Linked DNA regions of Homo sapiens. The protein of the gene in region 1 interacts with the protein of each later gene in a biochemical or structural test. Each region holds a gene or a part of one and is shown on either strand. Other genes may lie near its edges.

Region 1 (5,408 bases):
TTTCACCATGTTGGCCAGGCTGGTCTCCAACTCCTGACCTCGTGATCCACCTGCCTCAGCCTCCCAAATTGCTGGGATTAGAGGCGTGAGCCACTGCACCCGGCCAGCTTTCAGGTTTTCATTATCGAGTATGATGTTAACTGTGCACTTGCCATTTATGGTCCTTATGTTGAGGTATATTCCTTCTATAGCTAAATTGGTGAGAATTTTTATCCTGAAAGGGTGTTGAATTTTGTCAAATGCTTTTTCTGTGTCTGTTGAGATGTTTATATTATTATTATTATTATTAATTTTTTTTTTTTTTTTGAGATGGAGTGTTGCTCTGTCACCCAGGCTGGAGTGCAGTGATGCAATCTCAGTTCACTGCAACCTCTGCCTCCTGGGTTCAAGTGATTCTCCTGCCTCAGCCTCCCGAGTAGGTGGGACCACAGGTGCATGCCACCACACCCAGCTAATTTTTGTATTTTTAGTAGAGATGGGGTTTCACCAGGCTGGTCTCAAACTCCTGACCTCAGGTGATCCACCCATCTTGGCCTCCCAAACTGCTGGGATTACAGGCGTGAGCCACTGCACCTGGCTGGTTATATGATTTTTATCCTTCATTTTGTCAATGTGTGGTATCACATTTATTGATTTGCATATGTCATACCATCCTTGCATCTCAGGGATAAATCTCACTTGATATATGATTCTTCTAGTAGGCTGCTGAATTCGGTTTGCTAGTATTTGTTGAGGATTTTTGCATCTGTGCTCATCAGGGCTATTGGCATATAATTTTCTTTTCTTGTGTTGTCCTGGTCTGGCTTTGGTATCAGAGTAATGCTTGGCTTCATAAAATGAGTTTGGAAGTATTCCCCCCTCCTCCCTCCTTACTCCCTCTTCCCTCCCTCTTCTTCCTTCTTCCTCCTCCTCCCTTTTCTTTCTTCTTCCTCCTTCTTTCCTCCTCCTCCTCCTCTTCCTTCTTCTCCTCCTCTTCCTTTCTTCTTCTTTCTTCTTCTTGATAGAACTGTGCTATGAGGTCATCTGTTCCTGGGCTTTTTCTTTGTCAGAAGAGTTATGACTACTGATTCAATCTCCTTACTAGTTATAAGTCTTTTCAGATCTTCTATTTCTTCTTTATTTTAGTCTTGATAAATTACAAGTTTCTAGGAATGCATCCATTTCTTCTAGGTTATACAGTTTTTTGGTGAATAATTGTTCATGGTAGTCTCTTATGGTCATTTGCGTTTCTGTGTTATCAATGGTAACATCTCTTGGTTTTGATTTTATTTATTTTCGTCTTCCTTTTTACTAGTCAAACTAAAGCTTTGTTGATTTTACTTATCTTTTCAAAATCCAGCTCTTAGTTTTAGTGGTCTTTTCTATTGTTTTTGTAGTCTCTATTTCATGAGATTTTGTTATTTCCTTCTGCTAACTTTTTCTAGTTCCTTTAGATGTAAAATTACGGTGTTTATTTAAGATTTTTTTTAAATATAGGCGATTATTGCTATAAACTTTCCTTTTAGAACTGCATTTGTTCTATACATTTTGCTATGTCGCATTTCAATTTTAATATTTCTTGTGATTTTTTAAAATTTTCTTTTTGATTTCTTCTTTGACCCATTGATTATTCAGGAGTATTTTGTTCAATTTCCACATAGTTGTCAGCTTTCCAACTTTCATTCTGTTATTGATTTCTGGTTACATACCATTGTGGTCTGAAAAGATACTTGATAGGATTTCAGTCTTCCTCAGTTTGTTGAGTCTTGTTTTGTGACCTGCTGCATGATCTACGCTGGATAATTTTTCTTGTGTGCTTAAGAAGAATGTGTATTATCTGCTGTTTGATGGAATGTTCTGTATAAAGGTTGAGTATCCCCAATCCAAAAATCCAAAATCCAAAATGTTCCAAAATTTAAAACTTTTTGAGTACCAACATGATGCTGAAAGGAAATGCTCTTTGGAACATTTTTGGTTTTGCATTTTTGGATTAGGGATGCTCAGCTGGTAAACATAAGGCAGGTATTCCCAAATCTAAAAAATGTAAAATTCAAAACACTTCTAGTCCCAAGCATTTCAGATAAGGAATATTCAACCTGTATGTTAGATCCATTAGATCCAGTGTATAGTTGAAGTCCAATATTTCCTTACTGATTTTCTGTCTGGATGACCCATCCATTATTGAAAGTAGGATTTTTGAAGTCTTCTAGTATTATTGTGTTACTATCTATTAATGTCTTCAGATCTGTTAATATTTTCTCTGTTTATTTAGGTGGTCTGATGTTGGGTACATATATATATTTACAGATACTGTATCCTCTTGTGGAATTGGCCCCTTTCTCATTATATAATTACTTTCTCTGACTCTTTTTACAGTTTTTGATGTAAAGTCTGCCCTATCTGATAAAACTTTAGCTTCCTCTGCTCTCTTTTGGTTTCCATTTGCATGGAATATCTTTTTTCCTATACCCATGCATGTGCTTAAAGGTGAATTGAGTCTCTTGTAGACAACCTGTAGCTGAATCTTGTTTTCTTTATCCATTCAGCTGCTCTTTATCTTTTGATAGGAGAATTTGGCCCATTTACATTCAAGGTAACTATTGATGGGTAAAGACTTCTGTCATTTTGTAATTGTTTTCTGATTGTTTGGCAGATTATTTGTTTCTTCCTCTCTTGCTGTCTTCCCTTGTGTTTAGATGATTTTCTGTGGTGGTATGCTTTGATTCCTTTATATCTTTTGTGCATCTACTATTGGTTTCTACTTTGTGGCTATCATGAGGTTTACATAGAACATCTTATAGTTATAGTAGTCTGTTTCAAGCACTAACAACTTAATTTCAATTGCATTAAAAAACTGTACTGTTACTCAGACCCTCCTGCACATATTTTATGTTTTTGATGTCATTATTTGCATTTTATATTGTGTATTCATGAAAAAATTATTGAAGCTATAGTTATTTTTAATACTTTTTTTTAAAAACCTGTATTTTAGAATTAAGTAATTTACACATGACCATTACAAATTTAGTATATTATTAATTTGATTATATATTTATCTTAACAGTGAGTTTCATACTTTCATATGTTTCCATGTTGCTAATTAGTGTCCTTTCATTTCAGCTTGGAGAACTCTTCAGCGTTTCTTGTAAGGCGCGTCCAGTGGTGATAAACTCCCTCAGCTTTTGTTTGTCTGGGACTGTTTATATCTCTTTCATTTCTGAAGGACAGCTTTGCTGGGATACATATTCTTGTCTGGTAGTTTTGTCTTTCAGCACTTTGAATATATCATCCAACTCTCTCCTGGCCTACAAGGTTTTTGCAGAGAAATCCACTTGTGGTCTTATAGGGTTTCTCTTGTAGAAGATGAGTTTCTTTTCTGTTACAGTTTTAAAATTCTCTTTCATCTTCTATTTTTGCCAGTTCATTATAATGTGTGTCAGTGAAGTCTTCTTTGGGTTGAATCTTTATGGGGTCCTATGAACTTCCTGTACCTGGATATCTTTCCCTAGATTTATGAAGTTTTCAGCATTTTTTTTTTAAATCAGCTTTCTGTCCTTTCTCTCTTTTCCTTCTTGAATTCTCGGGTTTGTTTTTCATTTTCTTGGGTTTTTTTTTTTGATGGTGTCTTGTTCTGTCACCCAGGCTGGAGTGCAGTGGCATGATCTCAGCTCACTGCAACCTCCACCTCCCAGGTTCAAGTGATTCTCCTGCCTCAGCCTCCCACGTAGCTGGGACTACAGGTGTGCACCACCATGCCCAGCTAATTTTTGTATTTTTAGTAGAGACGGGGTTTTGCCATGTTGGCCAGGCTGGTCTTGAACCCCTGACTTCATGTGATCCACCCGCCTCAACCTCCCAAAGTGCTGGATTACAGGTGTGAGCCATCGTGCCTGGCCTTGAATTCTTAAAATGCAAATATTGTTTTGCTTGATGGTGTCCTATAATTCAGGTAGGCTTTCTCCACTATTCTTTTTTTTTTCTTTTTTTCTCCTCTGACTAGATAATTTCACATGATCTGCCTTTGAGTTCACAGGTTCTTCTGCTTGATCAGGTCTGCTATTGATGCTCTCTATTGCATTTTTTGTTGTTATGTTCTTCAGCTCCCGAATTTGTTTCTTTTTATTATTCCTATCTCTGTGTTGAATTTCTCATTTGTTTGTATATATTTTTTTATTTCATTATCTGTGTTCTTTTGTAGCTCACTGAGTTTGCTTGAAACAATTATTTTGAATTCTTTATCTGTTAGTTCATAGATCTCCATTTCTTTGTGGGTGATTACTGGAAAATTACTGAGTTTCTTTGCTAATGTCACGTTTCTTTTTTTTTTTTTCTTTCTGTTTCTTGTGGCCTTGTGTTATCTGTGTATTTGATGGACGAATTACTTCTAGACATTACAGATTAGTGTGTTTTTTTTGTTTTTTTTTTTGTGGGCAAAGATCTTTGCCTGTGGGTGAGGGTGAGGGTGAGGGCGCCAGCCAGTAGGTGTGGTGGTTCTGGCTCTGTGGAAGGCCCAGCATTGTGAACTCCATGCAGCTCCATTAGCCCAGATCATTGTCAGTGAGGATTGCAGGGGTCCTCAACATCCAAGGCTGCAGGTATCCATACCAGCAGCAAGGCTTTTTTTAGTCTATAGTGGCAGAGGCTGCTGGGGACCTCTTCATCACTTTTTCTCCCATGGGAGACATTGTGGCCAAGGGGATTCTTCTTGGCACAGGTTCTGGCTTTGGGCTTGTTGTGTTGGTGGAGGTGGCAGCACTGATGTCTCTGATGGCGTGGACACCTGTGGAGCAGCTACAGAGCCAAGGTTTGGAGTGCAAGTGTTTGCAGAAAGACAGCGGGTCTTGGGTTCAGGATGTTGACTAGCCTGCAGCAGTGGTGCTTCTAGTGCCTCAGATGTGGGTGCACGTAGAGCAGCCTTTGAGTTGGGTGCGGAGTGCAGGTGTGCAGAGCAGCCAGAGAGCTGGGATCTGGAGAGTGTGTGATTAGAGCAGCCACAGAGCAAAGGTCTTACATGAAGGTACATGTGAAGCAGCTGTGGCTCTGGGGTCTGGGGCATATGTGGGGGTTAGGGGCTGCACTGTCTGGGCAGTGCAAGAGCTGCTTTTTTTCAGGGTGAGGAGTGCAGTAGTGTCTCCCTCTCCAGGGGGTTCACAGCAGCAATGGGTGCTGGTTACCTTAATGGTGAAAGCTGTCAGTGTCCTCTGCAAAGTAGGCTACTGGGGTTGGCATCAATGAACACTATAGGGTCCTTCACTGTGAAACCTGCAGGAAGTCTGTGGCTATCTTGAGGGTTATTGGAGGTCTCCAGGGACCTGCTCTGGGGAGGAGCCTAGCAGTCTTTGCCACTGAGGACTGTAATGGCACTCACCACATGACTGATACAGGTAGCCCTCACCCCTTGTTCTTAGCCATCTCCAGATGTCTCTGCT
Region 2 (4,453 bases), on another chromosome or scaffold:
TTTCCCTCCTCCTCACTTGTGATAACCCTGTGATGCATAGGTACATTTCAGCAGCCTCAGGACTGAGACTCTGGAAAGCCCTGCATTCGTGATGTGACATTGAAGTGTGCCCCATGTGTGTGCACTTGAGGCATTTGCTCAGCCCTCTGGAGCTGGTCGTCTTCTGGCCAGGGTGCTGTTCCATGTTTGTGGCTGAGTGACCATTGCGTATTCTTCATGCCTTTGAACTTTTTCAGGGAGCGCATGGAGCTTTTGGAAGAAGCCAAGAAGATGGAGATGGCCAAGTTTCGCTACATCCTGCCTGTGTATGGCATCTGCCGCGAACCTGTCGGCCTGGTCATGGAGTACATGGAGACGGGCTCCCTGGAAAAGCTGCTGGCTTCGGAGCCATTGCCATGGGATCTCCGGTTCCGAATCATCCACGAGACGGCGGTGGGCATGAACTTCCTGCACTGCATGGCCCCGCCACTCCTGCACCTGGACCTCAAGCCCGCGAACATCCTGCTGGATGCCCACTACCACGTCAAGGTGGGGGGCCGCACGGTGCCCGAGAGAGCTGGGCAGGGAGGGCCTGTGTCTTGGGGAGCAGGGTATCAAGGGGTCAAGCCCTGAGGTCAGGACAAGGGCAGAAGAGGAGGTGGTTCTTCTTGGAGGAAAGAGCTTGAAACCGAGGCCTTTTGCAGCATGAGGACTCCAGGAGCCTAAGCTTGTCCTGGTTGGTATGAAAACCACACGCCATGTAGCTGGAGGGTAGCTTGGTGAACATGGGGGCTGTTCCCCCAAATCTTGGCATATGACTCATTCCGGAAAAAGATTACGGGTTTGTGGGTTTTGGTCTTATGAAATCAGGTTAGAATTCAGCCCGTGGGCCAGGTGTGTCCTTGCGAGACCTTAGGCTCTGCAACAAAGGGACGCATTTCCCTCAGTGTTTTCAGGAGCTCGGGGTGGTGGGAATGTGGGGGTCCTCTGCAGTGGGGTCCTCAAAGTGCTGTGGAAAGAGGCTTGTGAGGAGGGGCTCGTTGCCTCTGTCTGCCCCTGCGTAGAGTGCGGAGTGGCAGCGTGTTGCGTTAGTGCAACGCCTGGGAGATGGAGCTTGCTTTTGCTTCGCTGATAGGTTTTTGAAACACAGAAAAGTAAGAGAGATAATGTAACTGAAAACCAGTGTTGCCTCTGGGCCTTGGCAGGTGTTAGCATCATCACCTTTGCATCAGGGCTGTATTTCCTTGTATCTCCTTTGATGGCCTTCGTGGCTAGGGTTGTACTGTCGTTGACATGTGGTGGTTACACCTGGCGCGTTGTAGTTTTTCCCCACGTGGTGATGTTCACATGCTCTTGGGAGGCCCAGGGTGATAGGCTGGTCCACATGACACTGGTGTCTGCCCTGGGAGTGAGAAGGAGCCGAGAGCCATGGTCCGGATCCATGTAGTTCATGCAGGGGACAAGCAGAGGAGTCCCCTGCCTGGCTTGGCTGTGCTACTGTTCCTGGTGGCACAGCACTTCCAGGCCTCTCTGATGGCCTGACCATTAATTAGGAGAGACCTGAATTCAGGGCCCGGCCCTGCCCCTGAGCTCTTGGGTGGGACGGGAGCGGTGGCTCGTATGGCATGCGCACGGCCGCTCCCTGTGCCCAGACTCTGCGGACGAGTGCATCTCGCGTGCCTTGCTCAGCCAGGGCGGTGGTGAGGAGGTCAATTTTTCACTTCGGGCAGTAATTATAAGTTGTCTCTTAGGTAGGTGTTGCGCAGTAATAAGATTTCAGCTAGAAGATGAAGCACCGTCCTGCGAAGTGAAGTAGGAAATTGAGATAATGGAGACAAAAATCAAATGACTTGGCTTGAACGGGCTCTCTGGTGGTTTCCCGCATCTGCTTATGTTCTGGGACCCCTGGGATTCCCGTTTCCTGTGATGGGCAGGGCTGGGCCTCACATGCGGACCCCCCATTCCCGCCAACATTTACGGGCTTGTTTCTAGGTAGCACAGGCTCTGGGGCCCTAATGACTAGTAAGCTCTGCCGTCCAACGTGCACTGAATACCGGAAAGGACATGCTAGAGGCTTCACCTGCGGGAGCTGCCCTCATCCTCAGAGCAGAGGTGCAGAGTGGACGGTGGCCTCTGGTTCTCGCTGAGTCTCTGCTTAGAGTGAGTAAATTAGCAGCCAGGATCGTCCAGCTGTAAGTCACGGAGCAGAGACCTTGATTTCCACCTGGCCTGCCACTGTGCTTGACATGAAAGAAACCAAATGACCACTGCACGTAGCAGTCACTTGGGGGCAGGGTGTGTGGCCCGCAGGCTGGGCCTAGAGGCGGCCCTGTGGGAGGGGGTGGGAGTGCTCCTGGGGCTGGGCCTTCACACAGGGTGGGGCTTTTCTGCCCTCAGGAGTCGGGGCAGGCAGCAGCAGAGCCTTTAGGTGAAGGAAACAGCCCAAGAGACGCAGAGAGCTCTGGGCCTTCCTGCAGGGGCAGCAGGCAGCAGGGCTTCCCTGTCTTTCAGGACAGCTGCAGGGGGCGGATGCTGCCTGGAACTGCTTTCTCAGGGAGGCTGCTGTCGAAGGCACGCTGGGTGCTGGCCAGGAAGTGACAGGACATCTCTGTGTGGTGCCCCTGGGACATCTTAGGGCCCTGTGTACCCTGACAGGCCGCAGGAAAGATTGCTTTTGTGTGGCGTCCTTCTTAATCAGGCATGTTAGTCACCATCAAGAAGCCCAAAAACAAACCGAAAAATACCTTTACGTGACATACTTATTTTTTCTGTGAAATAGCTACTGGTGTGCGTAGAGTGCAGCAGGGAGTGTGTGTCGGGGTTCTGAGAGTCAGCGCCTTTGTTCCTGAAGACGAAGTGTGGAAGCTTTGCATGGACTGACCACTGGGCTTCTGGGCAGTCCTCAGTAGACAGTTATTCAATGCAGGAAAACTGTAATCCAGAATCCTGCAATTAGATCCTAAGTTGCCATTCCAGTGCTGCCATTCGCCTCTGAGATGGGCTCCCTCAGTGCTCAGGGCTCGATTCAAACTGGAAATATCACAGCAACTGTCTACTTCATGAAGCAGTTAAATGTAAATAGTATACAAAGTAATAGTATCAAATTAATGCTTGATATTATTCAACATTACATATACTAAATACCAATATTAAGATACTAGTTGGAATCAATTTCAACTTAAAAATGAAATAACTTGGTTTAAAATCTCAGGCTGCATTTATATGTCCAGTTAGCCCAAAACAGACGCTTTTCAAAGGGTCACACGCGGGTCACGTTCTGCTGTGTCTTTCTTTTAGAGGCAGCAAAACCCCGGCAGGCTGCTTTCTTAGTCTTGACAGCTGGACCTTGAAGTTGAAGGGCCATGTGCTTGGGGGCAGCTGTGAGCCCTCAGCTCTTGGAGATGCAGAGTCGGGTGCTGATGAGAGTGTTTGTAACTCTTGAAGCATTTGCTGGTCAGAGTGGATGCCACAGTAGCTCGCTGTTGAGGACACGGGGTGAGGGGCAGCTTGGGTGGGAAGATGAGGAAAGGCGGAGGGGAAATGCAGCCGGCCAGGAGTCCGAGACATGGAGGGAGGAGAACATAGAGGGTCAGTGACCCTCCTAGAATTCTCAATTCCGAGCTTGCATTTTGTTGCCAGAGGTTTTACAGAGAATTTCTGCTCGTTTTCTTTTCACCAAGTATAGTTTGGAGTGGCTGGCTCTATCTGACAAAGACAGGAGGAGAAAAGGCTGCAGGCCTGGGGAAGCACCAGGCTGAGATCTCTGCACCCCTGTCGTTTTTCTTTTCTTTTCTTTTCTTTCTTAATGATCTCAGATGTCATTTAATTTTCACAACAAAGCTACAGGATGGGTACTGCTATTGCCTCCTTTTATGAAAAAAGGAAACAGGCACAGAGAGGCTAATAGTCCAGGGCCACGGAGCTACTAACTTGTACAGGCAAGATTAGAACAGTGAGTCTGATCCTTAACTAACCGTGGGAGGGAGATATTTTTTTCCTACATTCAACCATACAGGGGGAGGAGGAATTGCCTAGAAAGTATGTGATGCTTTCTTTATTTTTATTATTATTTTTTATTTTACTTTTAGTTCCGGGATACATGTGCAGAATGTGCCAGTTTGTTACATAGGTTTATATGTGCCATGGTGGTTTGCTGCACCCATCCACCATCTAGGTTATCACCTAGGTTTTAAGACCCGCATGCATTAGGTGTTTGTCCTAATGCTCTCCCTTCCCTCTTCCCCTACGCACCGACAGGGCCCGGCGTGTGATGTTCCCCTCCCTCTGTCCATGTGTTCTCATTGTTCAGCCCATTTCTGAATTTGAAGGCTTTCAAGCCACTGATGACTGTTGAACTGAAACTTCCTGTGCTCTGGAGCTATTTGGAGAGTTAGGACCCGTTGTTGTGTCCCAGCGTCCAGCAGCCGCCGGGGTTTGCAGGGTCGGGTGATGGCGTTCCTCTGGGGAGCTGGCG

The links. Proteins that work in one complex are often made in the same cells at the same time.
Region 2: the proteins of BIRC2 (region 1) and RIPK4 form a complex in vitro, tested with the Homo sapiens proteins (one study listed by BioGRID).

What each region holds. Positions count from the first base shown.
Region 1 is NC_000011.10:102,356,391-102,361,798, forward strand, and holds part of BIRC2 (baculoviral IAP repeat-containing protein 2), read left to right. Parts: intron 1-5,408. UniProt on the Homo sapiens protein: Multi-functional protein which regulates not only caspases and apoptosis, but also modulates inflammatory signaling and immunity, mitogenic kinase signaling, and cell proliferation, as well as cell invasion and metastasis.
Region 2 is NC_000021.9:41,752,600-41,757,052, reverse strand, and holds part of RIPK4 (receptor-interacting serine/threonine-protein kinase 4), read left to right. Parts: intron 1-236; coding exon 237-528; intron 529-4,453.